Homo sapiens: one gene and its partners. The protein of the gene in region 4 purifies or fractionates together with the protein of the main gene of each other region. This does not show direct contact. Each region holds a gene or a part of one and is shown on either strand. Other genes may lie near its edges.

Region 1 (7,258 bases), on a different chromosome or scaffold from region 4:
CTCAAGCGATTTGCCTGCCTGAGCCTCCCAAAGTCCTGGGATTCCAGGTGTGAGCCACCATGCCCAGCCCCAGCGCTATTTCTTATGAGATCTCGCTGTCACTTTGTGTTGGCCTAAAGCTCCAATTACATGGTGCTCTCCCTCATGGCTACAGGGCTTCTGCAAACCTTTCCGGTCTTCCCTATGTCCAAGCCCACCTCAAACGCCAGCGGCTGGGATCCACACCTGTTAGCCGGGGCTGCAGAACCACATCAGCCAGTAAGGCAACCACCGTGTCCAAGCCTTTGCTATCAGCAGACACAGCATACATGGTGGTGTCTCTGGAAGAAAACACAAGCCCATAATGCCAGGCCCTGAACTCACACTCTGCTTAACAGCCAGGGGACGCTCGGGCTTTGCGTGCCAGGTGGACAATGCCAGGCCCTGAGCTCACACTCTGCTCAACAGCCAGGGGACACTTGGGCTTTGCATGCCAGGGGCACCTACCTTTTGTTGGGGCCCAGCAGACATTTCAGGGACGCTTGGGCTTTGCGTGCCAGGGGACACCTCCTACCCTTCATCGGGGAACAGCAGACACTTTTCCCCTTTCTCTTTTCCTGTCTTACAGTGTGAATGCTTGGTAGGCAGGACTCACAGCTACACACAGCTTGAGTCAAAATGGAGCCACTTCTGATACAGATTTTTGTAACTATACTCTCTCTCAAAAGGTGAAGTGTTTCATCCCAGCCTCCTGTTGACTGAACGAACCCACTGGTGAGTGTGGAAACATGCCCGGCCTTGGCTGGCTTGGGGGACAGCAATGGCTGGCTCGTATGGAGCTTGTCTCACTGTAACATCTGTTCCCGGCATGAGGCACTGCACAGTCAGAAGTGCACAGAGCTGGCCCATGGGACAGGCACGAAATCATGGGGTGCTCTGAGATCAAGTGTGATCAAGGGAGACCATGCAGAGCAGACGCAACAGCCACGAAGAAGAGGGAGCTTGGGAGGCAGGACGCAGTCACCAGTGCCTCTGAAGAGGGGACTTGGCTGGACCTTCACCCTGAAGAGGAGCCATTCTCAGTGACTTTGGCTCTCCACATGGGGAGAATGGCAAGAACAAAAGCCTGAGCTGAGGGCGAGGGGGGCTGGGTCTGAGTCAGGACACCAGCCACCTGGCCAGAGAAAGGAGTTCATCTGGGATGAGTGAGATTCGAGGCAAGAGTCGGAGAATCAAACACACCAGGCAGGAACCTGGCAGGGGCAGCTGGGAGTCAGGGGGTATTAAGAGGCCTTGTTTTAGAACATGAATATGTTACCTCCAAGCTAACTTTAATTCTTAGCATTTAATGTGTCTTTTATGTGTAATTTTTTTAGCATTCAAACTTAAATCAACAATTTTAAAAATCTGTGATCTATATTCACCCATCTCACATTGCCCAGTGCTTTCTGAACAAGCTCCACACCTGGCATGCAAAGACCACTGCACTGTGCTCGAGGCAACACTGCCCCCTCCCTCCACCAAGCAGCCGGCACCTCCCTGGCTCGGTGCCTTTTGCCCCTGCTGTCTCCTGGTCTGGAATGCCTTGTGCCCCGTGTGTCTAGCAAACTCCTTCTGGAACCAGCCCAACCCTGCATTTCCTATGATTCCTTTCCCAACTCCAGACCAAGTCAGCCACTCATCCTCCTGGCTCCTACCGCCTTTGGCTACGGGGTCCATTACGTATGCAAGGCCCTCTGCTCTATCTGGGAACAGGGCCTGCTCTACATCCCTGGCATGCAGCCAACAGCCTGGAGGAACTGACGGGGGTCAACTGAGCTCCTGGGGGCTGTGCTTCTCTGTGTAAGCGCCATCCACCCAAGTCTCCATCCAGGACAGGGCTCCTTCTCCCCGTGAATCTCCACACCTCCCGCTGGGAGGGGCTCAGAGGGAATCTGAGCAACGACAAGAACGTCAGTTCCCAAGGACCCAAAGTCAGTTTGTACACAAAAGCTGGTGTACCTTGATGTCTGGCAGTCACAGATACCCCCATGCTTTTCCAACGTAAGCAGAATTTCATCTTTGCTGTCAAATCGAGCAGTAGACTAGTAAAAATAAATAAGGAAACCTAAATAAGCAATCCAGGCTATCCCTGAAACACAATTTTTTTTTAAAATCTACTTTTGCTTTTAACACACATACAAAAATTATCTTTTAACTTAAAAGTCTTTTATTAACATTAACTTAGCAACTTGATAATTTATTAAAATAACCATTATAGACAAGAAAAATCTCAAACATCCTTCAAAAGTATAGTCTAAAAAATTACAAAACTGGGTACTGACCGAAAATGCCAATTTTTCCAAAAAGTGAGCAATTCCACTAAGGTATTTCGCTTCATATCTCGATCCTGAATTGATAAGAACTAGTAGTAAAAAGAAAATTGACAGGTTACATCAGATATTCAAAATAAGATTTAATCAAGAGAAACATTTTAAGATGTCAATATGACATGATAATCAGATTTAATTACATGAGGGTGATTGTGCTGATGGTTTCACAGGTATATGTGTAGCTCAACATTTATGAAATCGTACACTTTGTTTCCACTCAGGGTACAATTCATAATTGGCATGCTAATTACAACTAACAGTCAACTAAAGCATGTGCATGTTAAAACTGCGGGACCACCCACGACAACACAACAGTACTTACTTCCTACTGTACAAAACTGTCCAAACTTATTCTGAGATGCCACGCGAAGCCCATTATCCAATGTGGTTACTTTGGTTTCAAACTTTTCCTGTCCATCAACTGTAGCAAAAACAGGCTTGGGTACTCCAGGTAAGGGAGAAGAGAGGGGGATGTTGGGATAGGCACCACCACTACTAAACCGTCTGTACGCAGGAGGTCCAAACCTAAAACAGAGAAAGCGGCCCAGTTACAACAGGCTTGAGACAACAAACCTGTGATGACCTGTTAGGTGCGGTTAGTTATGTTTTGTCTGGGTTAAAAGTGAGCATCTGCCTTTCTACAGGACTTATTTCTACAGACTTTGGAAGACAAAGCAGAGGCTGACAACAAAGGCTCAGCCACGGGACCTGGAGCAAGCTGGTTCCGTCCTTTGGGTCTTAGTTGCTATCTCTGTAAAAACAGGGCTTATTAACAGTAACTCACTCTAAGTGCAGTTTGTACACATAAAGCACTTAACAGCTCTGCCCTCCAACAGCACCACCGAAGTCTTGGATAAAAGCCATATCCCTTATTAACCTGGTCCGAAGGCGGGGTGTGACTTGGCCTCTGTCTCCCTCTCCAAACTCATCTCTTGAACCCCCACACTCCCATAGGTCCTGGTCACACTGATTCTTGTCAATTCCTGGAACACATTTGACTCATCAACCCCAAAGCTTCTTCACCGTTCCAGGGCTTGCCCTTTGCCCATGCCTACCCCTTCTTTCATTCTTCAGCTCTTCCCTTAAATGTCACCCTGATGGAGGACTATCCCTCACCAGTCTAGTCTTTCCTGCTATTTTCTATCATGAAAGGCTGCTTGTTTACTCCAAAGCATTTACGCGACTGCCGATATTTTGTTTACGCTCCAGCCTGTATCCATCTCCTGGAGGCAGCACCTCCGCACCCCTGAAACGGCGCTCGTTGTGTGGGGAGGGGCGACGCCTGTGCTGTCGGAACAAAGTTCCAGCGTGGGGAAAGGCAGGCCCGGTCACTTGGGTGGGAGGAGCGGTGGGTACGGAAAGGGTTCTTAAACGTCAGAGATCAACGGACAGACCGCAGCAACCGAGAGCCTGGACCCTGGTGTCAGAACCCTGCGGGTCTAACAGAGCTGGGCCCCCACCGGCTCAGCCTCCTGAAGGAGCACGCGGTAGGTGAAGCGCGGGGGCAAATATGAGGCATGGCCTCGGAGAAGGCCCGTCGACCCGGGAAGTGAGGGGGGGAGAGGACCCAGCAGCCGGGGAGAGGAGAGACAGATGGGACTGCGTCCCCGGGCTCGAGGCGCAAAGCAAGGCAGGGCCCCCGTCGCCTCGGGGACACCAGTGTCCCGAAGTGCGAGCCCGTCCCACGGGCGCCATGTCACCTGTAGAAACCGAAGACGGAGCGTCCAGAAAGACTCGAGCCGCCCCCGCCCCAGGCCGAAGCCTGGTTCGCCTTTGGCTCACCTCAGCCGCGAACAGCCCCAAGAACCCGAGCCCCGCAGCAACCGCGTCGCCGCCAGCACCACAGCCGCCATCTTGCGTCTCCGCCCCGCTTCAGTCGTCACTTCCGCTTCCGCCCACGGCTTCCCCTCCCCCTCGCCGACGGCCCAAGGCGTTCAGGCACGCGCTTTCGGTGCTCGGAGCGGAAGCAGCGGCGAGAGGCTCGGAGGCGCGGGGGCGGCCGAGCGGCGGGCGACGGGGGCGGGCGACGGGGGCGGGCGACGCGGGCCGCGGCACGGGCGGAGCCGGGGCCATGGAGCCGCCGCTGCCGGGCTAGGCAGGTCGTGCCCCGCCGGGCCGGCGGCGATGTCGGGCTACCAGCGCCGCCCGGGCGCCACCCCGCTGTCCCGAGCCCGGAGCCTCGCCATTCCCGACGGTGAGCGGGGCAGGGGCCGAGTCCAGCGGTCCAGGTGGGCGGCGGCCGCCCCGGCACGCAGTAAAGTCGCTGTTGTCGTTGCTTCCAGCTCCAGCGTTCTATGAGCGCCGGTCTTGTCTCCCCCAGCTAAATTGTGAGCGCCCCCATGGCAGGGACCTGGACTCCCCCTTCTTCGGCATTCGGCCGGCCTTTATGTGCTATGTGCCCAGCCCGGTGCTGGCTTCCGTGGGAGACACAGGTGAGAGACGAGGGCGCCGGCCCCGGGGACGCTTCCAGTTCCCGCGCCACGTGTGGCACCTCCGCTGCAGCACGAGCTCGTCCATTGACCCATCAATGTGCAGAGCGCTCACTGCGTGCCAGGCACTCGGAATTCAAAGGCGGAGTCCCCTGCTAGGAGCTCACAGTCTGGTTGCGGGGAGACCTCCCCCAAGACAGACAGTTCCAGTACAGGATGGTTAGTGCCCGGGGAGCACAGGAGCCCGCCCGCTTTCCTCGTGGGGCTGGAGTCGGGGTGCCTTCACCTAGTGGGCAGTGATTGGAAACCGAGCTGGAGCATTCCATCTGCCTCCACAGCCGGGCAGTGGCCAGATCTGGTTCGTCCTCGTTCTACCCAAGCAGAAGTGCTGCTGGGTGCCCGGGGTGTGCAGGAGTGTTTGTGTGGTTATGCCAGGATCTGAGGACATTCGGGGGTTGTCACAAGACAAGAGGACGCGCTTGCCCCGGCTGGGCTTCAAAATCTGCTGAGGAGCCGCTTTCAGACCACGGACACCAGGGCCAGTCTGCAAGTCAGGCCATCTCCAGGGTCACAAGTCTGGGAGCTTGTGTTTTTTTTAAAGTTTTCTCGGCTGACCGGGCGCAGTGGCTTACGCCTGTAATCCCAGCACTTTGGGAGGCCGAGGCAGGCGGATCATGAGGTCAGGAGATTGAGACCATCCTGGCTAACAGGGTGAAAACCCGTCTCTACAAAAAATACAAAAAAATTAGCCGGGCGTGGTGGCAGGTGCCTGTAGTCCCAGCTACTCGGGAGGATGAGGCAGGAGAATGGCGTGAACCCAGGAGGCGGAGCTTGCAGGGAGCCGAGATCGCACCACTGCACTCCAGCTTGGGCGACAGAGCAAGACTCCGTCTCAAAAAAAAAAAAAAAGTTCTCTAGACTGTGAGAACCACTGCAGTGGAGACTCCATGTGCAAAAGAAAAAAACCAAATGTGAGGTCATAAAGACTTCCTGCCAGCATGGTGGGTGACATTGTTTCTTTGCAGATTTTGGCTATGGAAAGGGGAAATGTTCTAAGCAGAGCCCGTCAGGAGCCCACGGGACACATTTTGGAGGTAGAGTAGTTCAGCAACCTTTTCTTCTTGTCTCCATCCAACACAGTGCCAGGCACGTGTCTGGTGGGACTGTCAATGTGACTGGCTATGTGGTGTAGCTGGAGCCCAAAAGAGCAGGTGGGGGTGGGATTTCAAGGGTTCAGTCTTGATCCTAGAGTAGCAGCGAGGTGACATCAGGGAGCGGGGAAGCCCCACCTGGGGGGCTGGGGCCACAGGAGCCAGCTTTACATGGGGCTCACAGCTGGGAGGGTCGAGTGTGGCTGCTTAAGTCCCCGGAGGGTGGGAAGGCGGTGGCAAGAGGGAGAAGGGAAAAGTGGGCGTTATTTAGGCTACCTAGGTAGGAAAGTCGGGAAGAGGGTCAGGGGGCACTGGGTCCCCAGCGTTGCAGCACCTGAGGAGCTGGTTGTTGTTGTTGTTTTTTGAGACAGAGTCTCGCTCTGTCGCCCAGGCTGGAGTACAGTGGCACGATCTCGGCTCACTGCAAGCTCCACCTCCCAGGTTCACGCCATTCTCCTGCCTCAGCCTCCCGAGTAGCTGGGACTACAGGCGCTCACCACCACGCCTGGCTAATTTTTTGTATTTTTAGTAGAGATGAGGTTTCACCGTGTTAGCCAGGATGGTCTCAGTCTCCTGACCTCGTGATCCGCCCGCCTTGACCTCCCACAGTGCTGGGGTACAGGCGTGAGCCACCACACCTGGCCACCTGAGGAGCTTTGAGAGCTCCTAGCACAGGTTGACCTCACACCAGGGAGCTGGGTGTGTGCAGTGGAGTGGCTTGGGTCGTTTTAAAGCTCCCCAGGGGAGCTTTAGTGAGCAGCACAGTGTGGGAGCAGGGGCCGAGGGGTGGAAGGAGAAGATTGCAAATGCAGACGCACGTCTGTGTCACTGCCCACCTTCAGCCACCTTCACACTTCCTAGTGCTGCCTGAGTCATGGTAGAATGACAAGCGTGGCTGCCCGATCTCACATGTGGCCATGCTCTGGAAAGACAGGTGAACAGGAAGGTTCCCTTTCAACGCTCTTCAGTAGACTTTATGCATTTGTGATGTCTGTTATTTCAGATGACAGATTTGAAGATCTGGAAGAGGCAAATCCATTCTCTTTTAGAGAGTTTCTGAAGACCAAGAACCTCGGCCTCTCGAAAGAGGATCCGGCCAGCAGAATTTATGCAAAGGTAAATCCACGGCACTGTGGGCGATGGCTCTGTGGGACGTTTCTGTTCCGGCCTCTGCAGCCTCCTTTGGAGGAATCGTGCATGAGTGTGGCAGAGCAGGCAGGCGTCAGTGCTGGGGAGCAGCTCTGGGCTCAGAAGCTGCTGGGCTCCTTCCGGTAGAGAGATTGGGCCTTTCTTCTTGTTGCGAGGCAGAACACAGAAAGGAAGATGC
Region 2 (7,024 bases), on a different chromosome or scaffold from region 4:
AGTATTCCAAGTCCTTCTCTTATTAAGCCAAGGAGCATCCAAAATGGAGACTATGAAAATGATTTTTTAAAAAGATGTTTCAGAGCCTTATGAGATCAGAGAAAAAGATTTGCATCGAGGCAGGGATCATTACTGTCTGGTGCAAGCCAAGCTCTCTTCACCTTTTATTTATTTGAGTCTTTATTTTGCATTTTGTAGCTGCCTTCATATGCTGAGCTGCTTTACAAATCCTGTTATGGGGTAACTTTCCCCACTGTCCTGCCCCCACCTCCACAGCCATAAGATTTGGGTTTTTGCTTTAAATAGAATACAGAGAGATGAAGCCTGTGAATATGGACCTTGAAAAGTTACCCCCTTTGATTACCCTAGTTGACTGTTCCAGGTTTCTCAAGCATTCTTAGGAGTTAAGTCCAGATTGAATATTTAACTCATGCTAAAAGTGAAAGAGAAAACCTAGAGCTCTTATGCCTCCATGTTCTTCATCATATCAGTGCTAGGGCCTGGAATCCCCAACAATCTATTAATTTTAGAGTCAATTCTCTACTTTGTTTCTGCAATCGAATCCTCACCCTCCAATATCCATTTTCTTTCCCTTTAGAGGACTGATTTATCCATCAACTGGGTGTTAAGCTTCCTGTTTCCCCTTCCCAGGTCAAGGGCAGCCCAGGTGCCCAATTTCTCTCTCTCTTCACAAGGCACCACCAGCAATAGAGATGAGAAATTCTGAAGAACAGCCAAGTGGAGGGACCACGGTATTGCAGCGTTTGCTACAAGAGCAGCTTCGCTATGGCAATCCTAGTGAGAATCGCAGCCTGCTTGCCATACACCAGCAAGCCACAGGGAATGGCCCTCCTTTCCCCAGTGGCAGTGGGAACCCGGGCCCTCAGAGTGATGTGTTGAGTCCCCAAGACCACCACCAACAGCTTGTGGCTCATGCTGCTCGACAAGAACCCCAGGGGCAGGAAATCCAGTCAGAAAACCTCATCATGGAGAAGCAGCTGTCTCCTCGAATGCAAAATAATGAAGAACTCCCGACCTATGAAGAAGCCAAGGTCCAGTCCCAGTACTTTCGGGGCCAACAGCATGCCAGTGTTGGAGCTGCCTTCTATGTCACTGGAGTCACCAACCAGAAGATGAGGACTGAGGGACGCCCATCAGTTCAGCGGCTCAATCCTGGAAAGATGCACCAAGATGAGGGACTCAGAGACCTTAAGCAAGGGCATGTCCGTTCCTTGAGTGAACGACTAATGCAGATGTCACTGGCCACCAGTGGAGTTAAGGCCCATCCACCTGTTACCAGTGCTCCCCTCTCCCCACCACAACCCAATGACCTCTACAAGAATCCCACAAGTTCCAGTGAATTCTACAAGGCCCAAGGGCCACTTCCTAACCAGCATAGCCTGAAGGGCATGGAACACCGAGGCCCCCCACCAGAATATCCCTTCAAGGGCATGCCACCCCAATCTGTAGTGTGCAAGCCCCAAGAGCCAGGGCACTTCTATAGTGAGCATCGCCTGAACCAGCCAGGGAGAACAGAGGGGCAACTGATGAGGTATCAGCATCCCCCTGAGTATGGAGCAGCCAGGTAAGAGAGTTCTGTTTCTGTCATTTCCTGACCTCATCCCCAACCAGCTTCTGCTGTGTGTTGGGAATCTTAGGGAAGGAACGGGCAGGTGTTTGATATAACAAACTCTGCAATGCATGACAGGCCTCTGGCTTCGTGAATTGCCTGCCAACCCGAATTTGTATCCTCTTTAGCCATAATTAGCACTGTATTAACAATCCCTTAGCTTTGTAGGTTGAGCATGGCCTCAACTGCCTAGTGGACGAACAGGAGCAAAAGTCTTGTTTTCAGCAGCTATTTGCTGTCCTCTCTCCTAGGATGTTGAAGGGGTCTGTGTTTCTCATAAGCCCTCCTTGAGAGGTAGAAGCAAATTACCTTGCACTTTAATTAGTCTGGAACATCCTATCACTTGCACATATTCCCCTCCATGAAGCTTTCATCATTTATTTTTGCAAACAAATCTGTGTATTTCTTGTCAGTTACCATTTTTCCATAGAATTACCATTATTCTTTTGGACTAAACAAACACCCAGATGTTATGGTGGGGGAGCTATGTATGTATGTAGGTTCAGAATGTTACTTGCCTTATGCTTGCAGTTTATGAAATCTGGACTGTTGTATCTTTTTTTTGTAGAGAATTTATTAGTTGCCTGTCACATTTTTAAACCTCTGAGTTAAATTCCCATCACATCATATAGAAATTTTGGTCAGATGCTAAAATACAGAAGGAAAAATATTACCATTTCTGTCTTATATATTTAGTTGTTCCTATATATACTTCTTAATTATTCAGAGGTCCATTGTCCCACTGCTATATTCACTAGACCTTATGATTCTATGATTCTGTTCATTGTTCCTGTTGTTAGTATTTGGGCCATGTCTCTGATCAGTAGTATTTCCACATATAGGGCAGGAGAAAAGGTTTAAACCATGGGGACCGATGGTGGCATTTAAGTGTGGTATCCTGCCTCATGGCCATGAGTAATGATGGGTGACCATCAGGTTTGAAGTGCTTGGTCCTAGGCTGGCCTTCATTTATATGCGGCTCACAGACTAGGTCTGTGATGTCCTTTGATGTCTACCTCTTTGTCTCCTGTACCCTACTTGCTCATTTTGGAAAAAACCTTCTGGCTTGAAGTTCATTGAGTGACTCAGGAGAGAAGGCAGTCATGGGGTGGAGTAGGGTGAAAGTGAGAGAAGGCACCTAGCATTTCCTGGTATTTCTTTTTTTTCCCCTGCAGGTCCTGTTTTTGTAGCCAGAGGCAATTCACTTTGGACTCCACCTCTAACTTTGCCAGTTTAGGATTTTTTTTTTTTTTTCCCTCTTAACCCAGGTTGATTTCCTAACCCTTTTCAACCTCCTCTGTGCAGCTTTCAAAGGGCAGGAGCCTATGTTCTGATCAGTGTCTTGGAACAGGAAATGGGGTAACCAACAAGGCTACTCAGGTTTAAAAGAGATCAAGAACCAGATTCCCATCTGACCAATGAAACAGAAGACCCAGGGAGGGGTTGGTCTGTTCAAGACTGCCTCACTTAGTGGAAACCCATTCAAGCCAGCAAAATATCAATGAAGCTGGGGGTTTTTATTTTGCTTTTCCCATCAGTATGGAAGAGTCTGTTGATGGGCTGATGTCTGTTGCCTTGTGGGAGGGGAGTGTGTTGGCTGGGGTGTGGAGCAGAAGCCACAGCCCCACTCAGCACACAGCCCGCCTTCCCAGGAAAGCTATTTTCAGAACTCATTCACCAGTATTGTTTGTGATCTGAAATGACTCCCACAGTGTTTGAAGCTAGATGGAAAATTATCTGCCCTTTGATCTGCCTAAATAAATAATGAGGAGCCCAAAGAGGTTTTCTTTTTTTTTCCTTTTCTTCCCATCCTGATTAAACCACCGGAGAAATTTAGCTGCATGTATTTTACAGGAAGATACATATTTTTTATCCTCCCACCTAAGTTATCTGTGGATTTCTCTTTCTTTCTGTCCTCAAAAGCAACAGAGCCCATGATGATCTACCCTTGTTGAGCAGCATTTTAATACACAGTTTTGCTGTAACAGGTTTTTCTCTATGGGAAAGGAGCAGAGTGCTTGATAATGCTTGATGAATAAGCAAACCTAAAATGGCCCTAGTGGGAGGATGCTCCATATGAAATTTGGGTCTGCATCAGGCAAATACTGGCCGTAAAATTGTTGCAGGGCCCTACATGAGGGAGTGGCACCTATTGACAAATTACTGGCAAAAGGAGGTAGTTGAACTGCTTTCCAGAAGTGTACTGCTTTAAGGTGGTGACACATTTTCCCTCCTTTATTTCCTTTAACCAACTAGCTATACAGTTTGTGAGTACCTTTCCAAGTAACTGCTGCTAGCAGCAACCAATTAGAAGACTACATTCTGAGCCCTTAATCCACAAATTACAAGTCAGGATGCAAAGCAAACTCTTTGAACAAATTGCTGTTAAGAAAACATTTGCTTGCTTTTCGAGGTGCAGTGAACTGCTGGAGATTTGCTGTTAAAATGAACAAAATTATAAACAATCCTTTTATTACTTCATCTTTCTTATGCCCTCCTCCCCTTAAAAAATAAATACCTTGAATGCCCAGAACCCCAGATGAGAAACAAGGCAAAGGCTATCTGAATAATTTTAAAATTTCAGAATCTTTGTCTTTCTAAGTGCTGAACCTTTTCTGCATCCTGGGTTTATACATTTATCAACTGCTTTTAAAAATTAAATCATTTCTGTTTATAAAGCAGCCACCTCCTTTCAATTGTTGAAATCATGCCCAGATCTGAGGTTTCTTGAAATCCTTGTTTAGTGGAATCTAAGGGTGACCTAACTCTGTAGTTCAGAGCAGAGCTGGTTGTGCAAGAGAAACCATCAGGAATTTGCAGCCTGCTCCAGGATTCACAGATTCACCGATTCACCATTGCAGAGCCTGGGAAAGGCAGTTTCTGTGGTGAGGATCAATCAAGTTCCAGGCTATTGGGTGGCACCTGCTCTGGTGAGAGTGTGTGTGCAGGATTGCACATGTGTGTGCCAGGAGTGTGGAGTGTGTGTGTGCATGCACATGTGTGCATGTGTGTGTGGCTGGGGAGGGTGAGGGCTCCCAGTCATCGAGGTGGCAGGGTGGAAGGTGCTGTGTCAGCTGGGTAGAGTGGCTTTTACTTTCCCTTTGAGTCCTTACTACTGTCTCTGGGAGGAGTGTACCCCCCACCCTACCCCACTTCCCAGCTTTGGGGAGGATCCTGATTTTAGTCACTGGCCTTTGTCCTGCATGTATGCTATGTCCCCTTTTCTGCAGAGCCCCAGTGGCCCAGGTAGCCTTAGGAAGGAGCAGGATGAGGGGACGGAAGTGGCAGGAGGCAGGTCAGGGCTTGCATGGAATCATGTGATTCTGTTGTCTGCAGGCGGCTTGTTGTTCCTGGTTAACGTGTCAGTGGGGAGCGATTCAGGCTGCTGTGTGCTGGAAGGACCTGGAGAGTGTGCTGCTCACATGGCTGCCACCTTTATTATTACTGTCATTACTTTTACTGTTATTATTTAACTTGGGGTGTATTTTGGCTTCCTCTGACATCCGCCCCCTCCAACTCTCCCTTACCCCGTCATTCCTTAATCTCTTTTTCTCACGGGGAGCTTCACCCCAGTGTTCATTCCGTCCTGCTTTCCCCTGGTGGGTGGATGCTGGAGCCCAGATTGAGTTCTTCACTGAAGGGCTTTCTCTCCCTTTGTGACTGCCCAAGCCATTGCTGGTTTGCAAACCAGCCAGTGACGGGCTGCCTTGGTTTTCCCAACATCACGGTGCACTGAGATCTGCTTCCTTTTCCAGCCTGGGGAATTGAGGGGCAGCTGCCTTGTCTCTGCTTATCTTCATCCTCAGCTTATCTGACCCCAGAGACCTCCTTCTGGAGACCTCATGGTCTCCTCCTTCCCAAGGTCCCTGGAAGGCCATGTGCTGTTGTCCAGGGAATGCAGGGGCCTTTCAGTCTCCAGGCAGGAGGGAGGCCAGTGGCTGAGTTTGTTTGAGAGAGAGGCCTGGGTTGCTTGATGAGGCCCAGGGGAGCTGTGGAGAGAAAGCCCATTTCAGAACTGGGCGTTCAGTCTTTAAAAGAGAATACCTCCCAGGCCTTGGACTGCAAATCCTGGGAACAAAAATGAAGGTTAATATAGTGATTTTTTTCCCTTAAAATTTGAGAGCTGCATTGGAGAACATGAAACTTAAGCCCCTCTTTTCTGCCCACAAAGCAGAAAAGAGACACACAAGCCCCAACAAATCTCAGGACATTATATTTTAACTCTGTAGGCATGTAGAAATTGTAATAGCTCTCATTCAAAGAGAAAAAAGAGCACTTAGTCTTTTACCTGTGAGGAAACTGAAGATCCATAGAATGGAAAATAGGAGCTCTTCACCAAATAAATGTATAAATAACTCCCAGGCTTTTGATTGAATGAGTGCTTTGAGCTCTGGGGAAAAATATTATGTATGGCAGCAACTTTCCAGTTGTACTTATGAGTACCATGTCAATTCTTCTTTGCCCAAATAGTTCGCATGCCCTCTTCAATATTCAGCAATTATTTATAATGACAGATGTATGTGATTGGAAGAATGTGGGTACACCAGAGGCATAGATGGGCCTGAGCGACAGAATCCAGGGTTTGTACAGGTTTGAGGACTCTTGGGGAAGATGTAGGTTATTGGGTATCCATGAGAAAGTGTTTGGAATGATTTTGTAGCTGTAAAAAGCCCTTATAGTTAAGATCTCTTGTAAAGATGGATACATGAACAGTAATGGTAACTGGAGTGTGTGTCTGAGGAATGTGCTTTAGCATCTGGAATGCCAGTTAAAAGTTAATTGCTCCTGGTGATTTGTCCCAGTTCCACCATGAATTTTATGCAATTTATTGCAAAGATTAAATGGATATCCTTTAAGTAACAAGCTAACAAGGTCAGCTTATCTCACTGGGAGGTAGAGAAGTGACTGTAATTCCTATTCCGCCAAAAATGAGAAGACCCCAGTATTTTTGCAATTTATTTGTGACCTCAAGAATAAAATGGGCTCATGCAGATTAAGTAACTTGCACCAAGTTACACAGCTCGTGAGCAGTAGAAGAGGTCTCCAGACTCCCTCTGTTGGGATCCAGATCCCATGCACTTAGCCATCTGTCTTCCCTGGATTGAGAAATATCAACTGTAGAACAAGTGTCCACAGGACATGGGAGCATATGAGGTTAATTGGGCATGAGCTAGGGCATGAACAAGCTTTTTGTCTTCAGTGCACACTGACAGATACTATTCCTGGTAGTGGTGATGGTGGAAGTGATCCATCCACATACTAATTGTTTCCCTTAATGGCTAATAGTCATTAGGTATGAATTATTTATACTTAGGTGTTAGCATTTTGTACCTGGTAATTAGGTACAAAAATGGGAGAGCCACATTAAACAATGTACCAAAGGTCTCTTTCTGG
Region 3 (7,024 bases), on a different chromosome or scaffold from region 4:
TCCTTTCTATCTTTACTGGTTATCACTTAGATGGTCTAGTTAACAGCTGCAAAGCAGTCTCAATCAATGAGATAATTAAATGAAAATCTTTGAACCTGCTTTTTATAAACTGAAAAAACCCACCCATATTTAGTAAATATGCGTTCAATTGGCCCAGGTCGGCAAAAAGTACACAATGACTAAACGGGGCTAAACGGAGAAAAGTGAGATAAGAAAAGTGAGAGACAAGCACAACATAATTAGCCTGGTGGCACCCTCTCCCACCTCACACCTCCACCACACAGGGACGCTGGGACACTGACTTAAAGCAATCCTAACTTCATCCCCCCACCTGAAGCCACCACCTCACTGACTCCAGGGAGTGCAAAAGAAACTCACAAACAGTAACAGGAACGCTCCCACCCCTCCTGCTGGATCTGTTTTTAAGTGTAAGCCTCTGCACCAAGCATTTCAGAAACATGGCACAAACCGGTATGTTTAGGAACTTCTACCAATGTACCATTCTGCTGACTGTAGCCCAAACACTATTTCAAATTTTGGAATCTGTGTATTTTCATAAAAAGTTTGTCTCCTCACATTCAAAATTAGAGATTTGACCCTTCTAAATTCTAAAAATTCCACTAGGATAAGCCAACATGTATTCTAAGAAACACTAATCCTGTGAAATGCTTTGCGATGGTGCTAAACCATTTTGGGTATTTTCAGAGTGCACATCCGCTGTACAGTAGCCTATTTTACTTCGCATAACCCTCCCTGTGCTGTCCAACAGAGTAGCCGCACGTGGCTACTGTGCACTTGCAATGAGACTAGTGCCACTCAAACTGAATTTTTAACTGTATTTTAATTAATTTAAATTTAAAAACTGACATTTCCATTGCTGGAAAACTTTTTTATGTTTGGAAAAACGTGGGTATGTGAACCTACTTTTCCATGAAAAAGTAGTAAGTTTTATGAAATCTAAAAGCAAATCAAGTATTTCCAATGAAAATTTTATGTTTGAACTGAAATGTGTTGTAAGCCTAAGATACACACCAGGTTTCAAAGTCTTGGTACAAAAAAAACGTAAAATGTTGCGTTAACATTTTAAAATCAATAATATGTTGAATTAACAATATTTTACATAAATAAAGTCGATATTACTGAAATTAATTTCACTTATTTCTTTTTATTTTTAACTTTTTTTTTTTTTTGAGATGGAGTCTTGTTCTGTCACCCAGGCTGGAGTTCAGTGGCGTGATCTCGGCTCACTGCAACCTCAGCCTCCCAGGTTCAAGCAATTCTCCTGCATCAGCCTCCCAAGTAGTTGGGATTACAGGCATCCGCCACCACGCCCGGCTAATTTTTGTATTTTTAGTAGAGACGGGGTTTCACCATGTTGGCCAGGATGGTCTCGATCTCCTGACCTTGTGATCCGCTCACCTCGGCCTCCCAAAGTGCTGGGATTACAGGTGTGAGCCACCGTGCCTGGACTGTTTACTTTTTTAATGTGACTCCTGGAAAATTTAAAATAACACACGTGGCTTGCATTCTGTTCCTACTGGGCGGTGCTGGCGCCATCGAATGATTCCCATACCAACACTGGAACACCTCCCAACACCAGGTTCGGGAATGTTGCCATAACCAAATACTTTTCTTCCTGTGCAGCATTTGAACTGCTGCCCACACCTGTGATCGAACAGTTCTTCCCTCATCTTCTGTGATGAGGAATGACTGTCCTTCAGAGCCACCGTTCTTTTTATCCTTTCCCAGGTCCTCTTTCTCTTCCCGTCCCCAAGGTCTCATTCTCAGTTCTTTTTTCTATTCTTTACAGTCCCATGGTGACCTCATCCTCTCCCTTACCTTCGACTATCACTTCCACGTGGAAGCCTTCCAAGTCTTTATCTCCACTTCTGACCTCTTTCTCAAGCTGCAGATCCACACTGCCAGCTGCCTGCTAACCAGTTCCATTGCCAAGTCCCACCAAATTCTCCAATTCAGTAAGTCTGACCTGGAATGCGTCATCTTCCTTTTGGTTGAAGATTCCCATCATTCACCTTAAAAACCTGGTCCCTAGTTGCATGGCCATAGCCTTATAGCAGGACCTTTCATAACAGTCCTTTTATCCCCTAATTGGCCTGCCTGTCTCTCAATTCTTCCTTTAATCAGTGCCCCCCCACCAAGTCCTCCTCTGCACCACTGCCATATCAAAATTCTCACTGCACTGCCATCAAATTTTCAACAGGTCCCCACCGTCTACCATAGCAATACAAACTACTCAGCAGGCACTCAGCTCCTGTACACGTGTGCAACCTCCCCTCAATCCTCCCTGGACACACCTAGTCCTCCTCCACCTTACTCTAGCTAATACAGCCTGCCATGAGTCTACTCACCACCATTCTGCCCAATCTGTAGGGTTCCACTCAAATACAAAGTCCTCAACAAAGCTTTCTCTGATCAACACAGTTAAAATCAGTGTCTCTCCTCCCTCAAACTCCTTTGGTACTTCTAATAATCATTATGGTAATGAGAGTATATGGCCTTATCTTTATAAAATAGTACAGTATTCCCTTAATAGCACTGAACAGCACCTTGCACTGCATAGTACAGGTATGCCATCTTTGGACACCTTACCAAAGAAATCAACTTAAAAAGGAAAATCTTGCCAGGTGTGGTGGCTCACACCTGTAATCCCAGCACTTTGGGAGGCCGAGGTGGGTGGATCACAAGGTAAAGAGAACAAGACCATTTTGGCCAACATGGTGAAACCTCGTCTCTACTAAAAATACAAAAATTAGCTGGCCGTGGTGGCACATGCCTGTAATCCCAGCTACTCGGGAGGCTGAGACAGGAGAATCGCTTGAACCCGGGAGGCAGAGGTTTCAGTGAGCCAAGATTGTGCCACTGCACTCCAGCCTGGCGAGCAAGACTCCGTCTCAAAAAGAACAAAAAAAAATTTGGTAAATTTGGAACTACTGGTAACTCTTAAGTCTTTATCTCCAGACCGGACCTGTAATTACTCCAGCCTTTCACCTGGATATCTCAGGATTCAATGATTCCAAAACTGAACTCATAATCTCAACCCCACACCTGTGCCTCATCTAAATGCACCCTAACTCAACGAATGGTGGCACCATTCCCACAAGAAGCCAGGCAGAGACACAGGTGTTATTTTACATTTCTCCAACCCCATCTTCTCATACCCAATGACCAACTCCTCCAAAATCTTCCTAAATGCCTCTGGAACTCATTCATTTGTCCCCAACTCTGTTGTCAGTTCAGGCCACTATGACCTGAGATTACTACAGTATCATCTGGTCTGACGTGCAATGTCCCAGCCAGTTTCCACAACACACCAGAATCGTCTTTCAAAAATCCAATCTGAACAAGTGACTTTCCCACTTAAAACCCTTCAACTGTTCTCAGGAAAAAGACTTTCAAACGTGGCTTATACACTCTTCTGCATCTGGTCAAGGCTTAGTTTTTCAGCTTACCTCTCATTTCTCAGATTATTTCTTCCCTTAAGCACACGACACTCCAACCATGTCAAAGTACTCTCTATGCTGTTCCCCAAATATGCCAATGTCCACTAGTGCCCCGTGGTCTTTGCAGAAGCTGTTATCTCTCTAGGTGTCCACCCTTTTTAACCCCCCAACACCCTGAGCACCAGCCAGCCCCTTGCATCTATTCTCTAACTTCAGCAGTCGTGTCTGGAGAAAATCTTCACACTACTGCTAGGCTTGTACTTGTACTTATCAACACCTGGCATGTGAAAAGCACTCAGTAATTATTTGCAGAATGAATGAGTAAACAGATCATTTTCTAAGTTTTTTAAAAAACAAATTCCAACGTCAATGAATGAAAGCCATTTTTCTGTCACCCATATTAATTCAACAGCATTGTATAAAGTGGGCAATGGACCTAAATTTTCATTTTGCCCATTGAGTCAAAACTGGCTGTTGTGCACGGTGGCTCATGCCTGTAATCCCAGAACTTTGGGAGGCCGAGGCAGGTGAATCACAAGGTCAGGAGTTCGAGATCAGCCTGGCCAACATGCCGAAACACTGTATCTACTAAAATATACAAAAAATTAGCTGGGTGTAGTGGCAGGCGCCTGTAATCCCAGCTACTCGGGAGGCTGACGCAAAAGCATCGCTTGAACCCAGGAGGCGGAGGTTGCAGTGAGCAAAGATCACGCCACTGCACTCCAGCCCGGGCGACAGAGTGACTCCATCTCATATTAAAAAAAAAAAAACAACCTAGTAATAATTTAGTCAAATAAACAGAATTTACATGTGTGGGCCCAGAATAATCACAATGAGGGAGAAAACGCTGTATTCAATGTTCTCCTTTGCCTTGTAAACTCTAAGACCAATTCATTTGAAATTGCTGAGAACCTTCTGATGCAAAGCACAGAATGTATGAAAAACAGCCAAGTAAACGTGGATACAACACAGAGGCACAGCCTGAAGGAAACTGGAGAGTTATGAAGAGACGACATCAGACCACAGGAATGTAGGGACTTGAATAAAGAGAAAAGGCTCCGTGCTGCTCCTGTCCTTGTGCAGGCTAAAGCTCTGTGCAATCACTGTACAGGCTTCATGATCCTGGTAGCCATGAGAAAGAACAGAGCCATTCTGCGGGGCCATAAAAGCCTTTCTGGTTCATTCAACAAAGGGAGATACAGCAAAGGGGAAGGAAACACTTACTAAGCAACAAGACTAGGTGCCCAGCCCTCACATATAGCATTTCCTTTATGCGTCGCAACAATATATTATCCCCATTTTGCTGGTGAGGAAACGAGCCTACCATCGTCACACAGTGAGTCCTGGTGACCTTATACTCACACATTTTCACTCAACATCCACTCCTGCCAAGCCGTTCTAGATGTTGGGGATACAACAGTGAGGAAAACAGATAAGGTCTCTGCTTTCAGGAAACCGGATAGTATTGTGGAGACGTACCATACACAAATAATTTCAGATGGTGATACAATTTAGGAGTGTTAAAAAAGTAAAATTGAAGGATGTGATAAAATAACTAGGAAGGCAATTCCAGGTTGCAAAGTTCTCAGAGGTAATGCAAAAGATAATTTTGAAGAGATAGTGCACAGAGCTAAAGACAATGTTTAATAAAGTGACTATCAAGTCAAACCTTCAATGAAGTCTCCAAAACTACCAGAAGCAAAAAATTACCACTCATTCCCTGATTATCAGAAAAGATAACTAAGGAGTTATCTCAGTCATAACCTAAAGCAGTAAGTTATATAGTTAGTCACCAGATGGCAAGTATTTCCACATGAACCAAACTATTGAAGGCAATGGGCCAACCAAATTAATTCTTAGATGCCCCAGCACCTACATCAGTGCTTAATAAATTACTGCTGAACAAATATATGACGGAAAGAAGAAAACAATGTTAAGATGTCACTGCCATGAGTTAAATAAATCCCTTTTCTGGCCAAGTGGCTTCAATTCACTCCACCCTACCCCTGACACCCGTCTTAATCACAAGCAGGTGAGGAAAGTGGGATTAGAGTAAATCCACGAACAATACTGTACAGAGAAACAATTAGCATATGCTGTCCCTCTCCCCAGCCACCAGACAGAAACAAGTTCCACTTAAAGAAGTCTAATATCTAAATAACTAAAAATTATTAAATGGGGTAATTATTTGGCTTTTTTTTCTTTTCTTTTCTTTTTTTTTTGAGACGGAGTCTCCCTGTACTGCCCAGGATGGAGTGCAGTGGCACAATCTCGGCTCACTGCAACCTCCGACTCCTGGGTTCAAACGATTCTCCTGCCTCAGCCTCCCGAGTAGCTGGGATTACAGGCAGGCGCCACCACCCTTGGCTAGTTTTTTTGTATTTTTAGTAGAGACAAGGGTTCACCATATTGTCCAGGCTGGTCTCGAACTCCTGACCTCGTATCCACTCACCTCGACCTCCCAAAGTGCTGGGATTACAGGCGTGAGCCACCACGCCCGGCTGGCTTTTTTTTTTTTCTCTCGAGACAGGGTCTAGCTGTTTCCTAGGCTGGAATGCAGTGGCACGATCTTGGCTAACTGCAGTGTCAACATCACTGGCTCAAACTATCCTTTCACCTCTCAGCCTCCTGAGTAGTTGAGATGACAGGCGTGAGCCACCATGCCCAGCTAATTTTGTTTAAAATTTCTTGTAGGGACAGGGTTTTGCCATGTTGCCCAGGCTGGTCTCAAACTCCTGAGCTCAAGCAATCAGCCTGCCTGGGACTCCCAAAGTGATCACAGGCGTGAGCCACCACGACTGGCCTATTTGGCTTCTTTAAGAAATTTTAAAACAAGGACCCTCCTAATGCAGATACTCAGATACTTCTGTAACCAGGAACTTGCTCTGAATATTGCACATAAACTGCCAAGTTGTGACGATCTGTTTACCAATAATGCTGACCTGGTACTCCTTGAGGAAAGGGACAAAGTACATTCATCTATCTGCATTGCCTCAGGGCTGTGTCCAGCTTAAACTGCAGATGATCAATGATTATATGATCTGAGTTATAAAAATTAAAATCTTTCCAAACTTTTCAGTCATGGAGCAGCTGGGTAGGGTGAGGAGCAGCTGGGTAGGGTGAGGACCACCCTTATTCCTCAGGGTGGTCCTCAATAGCCAGAGCTGCTCAGCCTGCTCTGCAGAACCTGAAGGTCTCATCATCGCATAACACTCTTCTAGTGTCTCTTGTAGAGCTGAAGAGCTGGAGAAGCCTTAGAAGTCTCTGCTTCAATGTTCGGAAGTTTATTTTTAAAGGACCATCCGAGTGGCCACACAGAATAACAAATGGCCATTCACAGCTGAAGAACAGAGCTGAGTTTGCACCATATATCAAAGATGCCAAAGCTTCCTTTCTGGGAACCAGATGGAATGACTGAAAAGCACTTTAAAATTGAGATACCACTTCTGATGAACGCTACCAATTTTTGTGATCTTTCAGTCATGAACCTGTGACATTTTTTTCTGAGACAGAGTAATGTTGTGATATTATCACTAGTTGATCCAGCATTAGGAAATATAGAT
Region 4 (7,024 bases):
GATCCTCCTGCCTCAGCCTCCCATATAGCTGGGACCACAGGAGTGTGCCATCACACCTGGCTAATTTTATTTTTTTTTTGTAGAGACGGGATCTTGCTGTGTCGCCCAGGCTGGTCTAGAACTCCTTTCTTCAAGTGATCCTCCTGCCTTGGCCTCCCAAAGTGCTAGGATTACAGGCATGAGCCACCACGCCCAGCATGGGGGGATTTTTAATTATTTAAGGAACATTTTAATGATTTAGTTTTGTTTGTTTGTTTTTTTATTTTTATTTTTATTTTTTTAGAGACAGGGTCTTGGTCTGTGACACTGCCACCTAGGCTGGAATGCCTTGGGGCCATCATAGCTCACTGTAACCTTGAACTCCTGGGCTCAACCAGCCCTCCCATCACAGCCTCCCGAGTGTCTAGGACTATAGGCGAAGAGCCTACCACAAGGACTATGAGCCACCACACCTGGCTAACTTCTTAAGTTTTTGTAGAGAAGGGGTCGCATGATGTTGCCCAAGCTGGTCTCAAACTCCTGGCCTCCAGGGATCCTCCTGTCTCGGCCTCTCAAAGTGCTGGTATTACAGGCGTGAGCCACTGTGCTGGCCTTATCTGGTATTTTATGCAATTACATATTTATTGCTCATCCCAACGTTCAATCTGAGGTCGGTCATGGAACCTGTGGAAGAATGGAGAGGTTTGTCACCTCCTGCAGGCCCTGGGTTCACTGAGGTGGCAGTGCAGAGTTAAAGACACAGCAGGAAGCAAGCCGTTGCTAGGTTGCTCTCATCTATGAGAGCCCGTTAGGAGCAGGAACCCTGGACCAGTAGGGACTGAGGGCTCCCAGAGAGAGTGCTGAGGCTCAGAATGTGGAGGAGCTGACCAGTGCGTCTGTGATCAAGCTGCGGTCAGTGTGTGATGGGGCAAGATCAGGCCAGAGAATTGTGGTCCTCAGTGCAGCCACAGCTGGACTTGAGACCTTACCTCATCTGTAACACAAGGCCTGAGTGGATAACTTTACAAAGCCCCTCCAGTTAATACTTTCTGGAATAATGGCACCAATTCATTGTGCAACCTGGTCCTGCCCAACCCCATCCTGTCACCATTCTCGGGACCAGCTTCATAGGCTTTGCCTGGTCCTGGCGTATCAGCCCCCTTTCCCTTCCGGCTTAGCTTAGCTTTGCTTTGCTTGTTTTCTTGGCTCTTTCTTTTCTTTTCTCTTCTCTTCTTTTCTTTCTTTCCTTCCTTGTTCCTTTTTTTTTTTTTTTAAACTGAGTCTTGCTCTGTCGCCAGGCTGGAGTGCAGTGGCGGGATCTTGGCTCAGTGCAACCTCCACCTCCCGGGTTCAAGCGATTCTCCTGCCTCAGCCTCCTGGGTAGCTGGGACTACAGGCGCCCACCAGCACGCCTGGCTAATTTTTTGTATCTTTAGTAGAGGCGGGGTTTCACCATGTTGGCCAGGCTGGTCTTGAACTCCTGACCTCGTGATCCACCCACCTCAGCCTCCCAAAGTGCTGGGATTGCAGGCATGAGCCACCGCCCCGGGCCACCTTCCTTGTTCCTTTCTTTCTTCCTTTCTCCTCCCCTCCCCTCCCCTCTTTTTGACAGGGTCACTCTGTTGCCCAGGCTGGAGTGCAGTAGCATGATCATAGCTCACTGCAGCCTTGACCTCCTGGGCTTAAGTGATCCTCCTGTCTCAGCCTCCCGAGTAGCTGGGACTACAAACGCCCACCACCATGCCTGGCTAATGTTTTTTGTATTTTTTGTAGAGACAAGGTCTCGCCATGTTGCCCAGGCTAGTCCCAACCCTTGGGCTCAAGTGATCCTCCCACCTCGGCCTCCCAAAGTGCTGGGATTACAGGCTTTGGGAGAATACACTTCTGTTGTTTAAGACACCAAGTTTGTGATACTTTGTTGCCGCAGCGCTAAAAGCCAAGAGGCCACTGTGCCTCTTAAGGCCAATCCACAAGACTATTAATAGAGCTGTTTACACTTTTGTGTTCTGAGCGTGGAGCTATGGAGTTGTGGGTCCCGGCGACAGGCTTTCCTGAGAGATGTCAGCCCAGTTGCTGACTAGTCTGTGTGTTGTGCCTGTGTGTGTAGACCCACAACTCCAGCTCGTACCTTGTTTTCTGACCACAGTGGTCGAGGTGCTGTTGTGTCCTAAGAACTGTTACTAACTGGACAAGGCACTCAGACAGATAAACCAGCACAAAGCTCTGCAACTTCAGAGCCAGTGACAAATGCCAGAAGCCCGGGGGCTGGAGGGGTCCTGGGGCCCTCATGCTGCCGAGGGGAGGATGAGTGGGGCAGCCCTTTGCAGGGCTGGCCTGCCCCCACGGGTTGAGCGTAGAGCCTGCGTCCTGATCTGTCTCTGTATGGCCCAGTCTTATTCCCATTTACTGGGCATCTGTGTGGGGCTGGGCTCAGTGTTGAGTACTAGGGTGTGGAGGCAAGAGAGAGCCACGCCCTCAGGATCTACGAGCTGTGGACATGCTGCCCTCCTGTTTGTGGAGCTGTTTGTTTCTCCTACTGTCAGCATTTGACCAACGCAGGAAGGAGGCTCCGAAATCAGATTTTACCTGGGCACGGTGACCCCTGCTGAGGCAGGAGGAGGATTGCTTGAGGCCAGGAGTTCAAGACCAGCCTAGGCAACATAGCCACACCCTGTCTTTATCAAAAAAAAAAAAAACCAGAAGTCAGGTTTTGCTCAAAGTCCTTTATCCCTGAAGAGGGTCTCACTGTCACCCAGGCTAGAGTGCAGTGGCACCGTCACAGCACACTGCAGCCTTGACCTCGAGCCCATGGTCCCAGCTATTTGGGAGGTTGAGACGGGAGGAACACTTGGACCCAGGAGTTCAAGGCTTCGGTGAGCTGTGATTATACCACTGTATTGCAGCCTCGGTGTCAGGGCGAGACCCTGTCTCTAAAATAATAAAATAATAATAATAATAATAATAATAATAATAATAATCAGGGTTCTCGCAGTAATAGGGCTTAGTATTTTGTTCCATTGTGATGAGAACATTCTAGGTTCCCGGTCTCTGTCCCTTCTTACCTCAAGTACTAGACACAGAGGCTGGACCCTTCTCCCGCCACTTCTGGGGGAAGCTTGGGCTCCTCCGTGACTTTTCTGAAACTGTTTCTTCACTTGTGGGATGGACTAGTTGAGCCTGCTTCACCTCCTTCATGTAATGTACTGTTTATTTTGGAGGATTCTTTGAAAACGGAAAAGTACAAATTTAAGGCCAGATATTAAAAAATTGTCAGGTCAGATGTGGTGGCTCGTGCCTATAATCCCAGCACTTTGGGAGGCTGAGGCAGGCGGATCACTCAAGTCCAGGACCAGACTGGGCAAAGTGGTGAAACCTTGTCTCTGCAAAAAATACAGAAATTAGCCAGGTACGGTGGCATGCACTTGTAATCCAACTACTTAGGGTGCTGAGGCAAGAGGATCACTTGAGTCTGGGAGGTGGAGGCTACAGTGAACCATGGTGGCACCACTGTACTCCAGCCTGGGTGACAGGGCGAGACCCTATCTCAAAATAAAATTGTCATTTTAAGAACCTTTTTAAATTCTTTAAGAAGTAATTGGGGTTGGGTGTGTTAATTTCCTAGAGCTGCTGTAACAAAGTAACACAAACTGGGGGGCTTCAAGCAACAGAAATTTAATCTTTCACAGTTCTAGAGGCCAGAAGCCAGAAACCAAGGCATCGGCTCTCTCTCAAGGTTCTAGGGAAGGACCCTTCCTCGCCTCTTCAGCTTCCTGTGGGGGCCACCAATCCTTGGTGTTCCTTGGCCTTTATCCACAAGACAAGACGTCACTCCTATCTTTGTTGTCACGTGGTCGTCTTCTCTCTGTGTGTCTGTCCAGACTTCTGTCTGCTTACAAGGACACCAGTCCCGTCCTAATCCATTTTGTCCCCACCTTAACTAATTACATCTGCAAAGACCCTATCTCTAAGTAAGGTTTCATTCCCAGATACCGGGGAATGGGAGGTTTGGTTGTGGACATCTTTTTGGGGTTACCCACCACAGTGGAGTTTCTACCTATCCCATCAAAAAAGTGCTTGGAATTGCCACTTTGATAATTTGATGATAACTGGGTGTGGTGGCTTGAGCCTGTAGTCCCAGCTATTCAGGAGGCTGAGGTGGGAGGATTTGCTTGAGCCTAGGAGTTTAAGACCAGCTTGGGCTATATATAGCGAAACCCTCATCTCAAAAAAACATTTTGATGATATGAAATCTAAAATTATGAACTTGCTTGTGAAAATAGAATTTGGCAGGGCGTGGTGGCTCACACCTGTCATCCCAGCACTTTGGGAAGCCAAGGCGGGTGGATCTCTTGAGCCCAGGAGTTCAAGACCAGCCTGAGCATCACAGCAAAACCCTGTCTCTACAAAATACAAAAAAGTTAACCAGGCACGGTGGCACGTGCCTGTAGTCCCAGCTACTCAGGTTAGGATGGAGAATCGCTTGGGCCTGGGGAGGTCGAGGCTGCAGTGAGCCATGATTGTGCCACTGCACTCTAGCCTGGGTGACAGTGAGACCCTGCCTCAAAAAAAAAAAAAAAAAAATTGCTGGGCGCAGTGGCTCACGCCTATAATCCCAGTACTTTGGGAGGCCAAGGCTGGCGGATCATCTAAGGTCAGGAATTCGAGATTAGCCTGGCCAACATGGTGAAACCCCGTCTCTACTAAAAATATAAAAATTGGGCCAGGCGTGGTGGCTCACGCCTGTAATCCCAGCACTTTGGGAGGCTGAGGTGGGCGGATGCCGAGGTAGGCGGATCATGAGGTCAGGAGATCGAGACCATCCTGGCTAACATGGTGAAACCCCATCTCTACTAAAAATACAAAAAATTAGCTGGGCGTGGTGGCGTGTGCCTGTAGTCCCAGCTACTCGGAAGGCTGAGGCAGGAGAATGGTGTGAACCTCTGAGGCGGAGCTTGCAGTGAGCTGAGATCGCTCCACTGCACTCGAGCCTGAGCGACAGAGCGAGACTCCGTCTCAAAAAAAAAAAAAATTCTTTTAGCTGGGCTTGGTGGTGGGCTCTATAATCCCAGCTACTGAGGAGGCTGAGGTGGGAGAATCGCTTGAACCTGGGAGGTGGAGGTTGCAGCGAGCCAAGATTGTGCCATTGCACTCCAGCCTGGGCAACAGAGTGAAACTCTGTCTCAAAAAAAAAAAAAATTTGAGATGAAGTTTCAGAACAGAACATTGTAGGCTGAAAAACTCCAGAGTTAATAGTTCAAATGCCCAACTTCTGAGTGAGTAATTGTTAGTTCAAACGCCCAACTTCTGAGTGAGTATGTTTGTGTCTGGTGATGGGGCATCCACGCCAGGTCTTCTTTTGCTTTCTGAACATTTGCTCTTGACACTGCTTCTTTTAATTCAGTAAACTGTGCTTTTAAATCTTCCACTTAGGAAATTGAGAGGCTGACTGAGCGACTAGAAGAAAAAGAGAGGGAGATGCAGCAGCTGCTGAGCCAGCCCCAACACGAGCGAGAGAAGGAAGTCGTCCTGCTACGGAGGAGCATGGCAGAAGGGGAGCGCGCCCGGGCCGCCAGTGACGTCCTGTGCCGCTCCTTGGCCAACGAGACCCATCAGCTGCGGAGGACGCTGACCGCCACCGCCCACATGTGTCAGCATCTGGCCAAGTGTCTGGATGAACGACAGCATGCACAAAGGAATGTGGGGGAGAGAAGTCCTGACCAGGTAGGCCACAGTGTAAGCAGAGTGTGGGGAAGACCTCTGTGTGCTGGGAGCATCGCCTACAGGCCCCTGATCACAGAGGTGGGGGGGCGCCCCAGAACCCACTTCTGTTCTCAGTAACGAGAGTCAGCTGACGGGGCAAAGCTCACTCATCCAAGGGTTTCTTTTAAAATGATGGAACATGCAAAATGTAATAGGAAAGCAGGCAGCCACCTCACTGCCCAGCACCAGGCCTGTGGCCGACCCCGCTCCCAGGTGGGAGATGGCACTTGGCTTTCATCTGCCTCAGCTGAGGATGAGGAGGAGGAGCTGAGCCTGGCAGAGCTGCCTGGAGGAAGTGTAGTCACATCCTCCATCCGAGGAAACTGAAGCAGAGCCAGGTGGTACTGCTGGGGATGGGGAGTGCCTCCAGTTCCACACCCCAAACTCCTGGAAGGACCGTGAGTGCCCGCCTTCTTCAGGCTCAGTGTGTCTGAGTGCATGCAGGCACAGCTGGAACCGCCATCTCCAAAGCTGGCTTTAGGCATGTCCTTGCCAGCAGCACGGCCTCCCGCAAGCTTGGAGACCTGGCTCAGGGCCACAGCCTCCTCATCATCAAAGCAAGGGCCGGGGGCAGCGGCACCAAGTGACAGTGAGGGCCAAAGAAGGGTTCGCTGGACCTCCAGGATAGGCTGGATCTGGGCTGTAGCTCTCTGTGGGGTCTAGTGGGAGAGAGAAGGACCGTGGGAGTTTCAGCATCAGGAGAAACCAGGGGGCTCCTAGGCAGAAAAGTAGGGGAGCAGTGGCCCAAGGCATCTGTGTGCCAGGCACCTTCCATCTTGCTGGTGCTTGTGGTGGTCTGTGTGTGGCAGGCAGGGGAATGGAGGCACTCCGTGCACATCTCACCTAGGCTGAGACCCCATCTCACTCGCACTGCCGGGCACAGGGCCTCTCGCTCGGGTCCTTTCTAGGCAGTTCTCTGAGGCAGCACCAAGGTTCATGCAGAAACACACGCGCTGGGATGTTCTGTGGCAGACAGTACATCCCGCACCCATCAGCAGCTTCACCGAGGCGCCCACTGGGGAGAAGGTTGGTCTGAGAACTGCCCACCTCAGCTGGGTGGATTCCAGGCGGGGAACCTCAGAGAGGACACAGCTGCATTCAGAAACCAGAGGAAAAGTGCCGTCTGGGCGGAGGCAGGGTGTTCTGGTCTGATTTTGAGTCACTGTGTCATTTCCCTCTGGGGATTTGAAAGGAGCCACACACAGTGTTGAGCCTGAGGCGGGGGTGGGGCCAGTGGCAGGGTAGGCCCTCATCACAGTCTCTAAATAAGTGTCACTTCTCAGCC

Evidence for each region.
Region 1: the proteins of TNIP2 (region 4) and ENTR1 purify together in Homo sapiens (affinity purification with mass spectrometry, with the first as the bait; 2 studies listed by BioGRID). This does not show direct contact.
Region 2: the proteins of TNIP2 (region 4) and AMOT purify together in Homo sapiens (affinity purification with mass spectrometry, with the first as the bait; 2 studies listed by BioGRID). This does not show direct contact.
Region 3: the proteins of TNIP2 (region 4) and TNRC6B purify together in Homo sapiens (affinity purification with mass spectrometry, with the first as the bait; 2 studies listed by BioGRID). This does not show direct contact.

What each region holds. Positions count from the first base shown.
Region 1 is NC_000009.12:136,407,615-136,414,872, reverse strand, and holds the start of ENTR1 (endosome-associated-trafficking regulator 1), read left to right. Parts: upstream 1-4,258; 5' UTR 4,259-4,475; coding exon 4,476-4,545; intron 4,546-4,633; coding exon 4,634-4,783; coding exon of another isoform or gene 4,784-4,999; intron 5,000-5,805; coding exon 5,806-5,874; intron 5,875-6,934; coding exon 6,935-7,047; intron 7,048-7,258. Other genes in the region: PMPCA (mitochondrial-processing peptidase subunit alpha), read right to left, coding at 226-320, 1,981-2,063, 2,304-2,383, 2,674-2,876, 4,134-4,204. UniProt on the Homo sapiens protein: Endosome-associated protein that plays a role in membrane receptor sorting, cytokinesis and ciliogenesis. Involved in the endosome-to-plasma membrane trafficking and recycling of SNX27-retromer-dependent cargo proteins, such as GLUT1.
Region 2 is NC_000023.11:112,816,816-112,823,839, reverse strand, and holds part of AMOT (angiomotin), read left to right. Parts: intron 1-651; 5' UTR 652-713; coding exon 714-1,585; intron 1,586-4,401; exon of another isoform or gene 4,402-4,515; intron 4,516-7,024.
Region 3 is NC_000022.11:40,180,904-40,187,927, reverse strand, and holds part of TNRC6B (trinucleotide repeat-containing gene 6B protein), read right to left. Parts: intron 1-7,024.
Region 4 is NC_000004.12:2,746,331-2,753,354, reverse strand, and holds part of TNIP2 (TNFAIP3-interacting protein 2), read left to right. Parts: intron 1-5,409; coding exon 5,410-5,700; intron 5,701-7,024. UniProt on the Homo sapiens protein: Inhibits NF-kappa-B activation by blocking the interaction of RIPK1 with its downstream effector NEMO/IKBKG.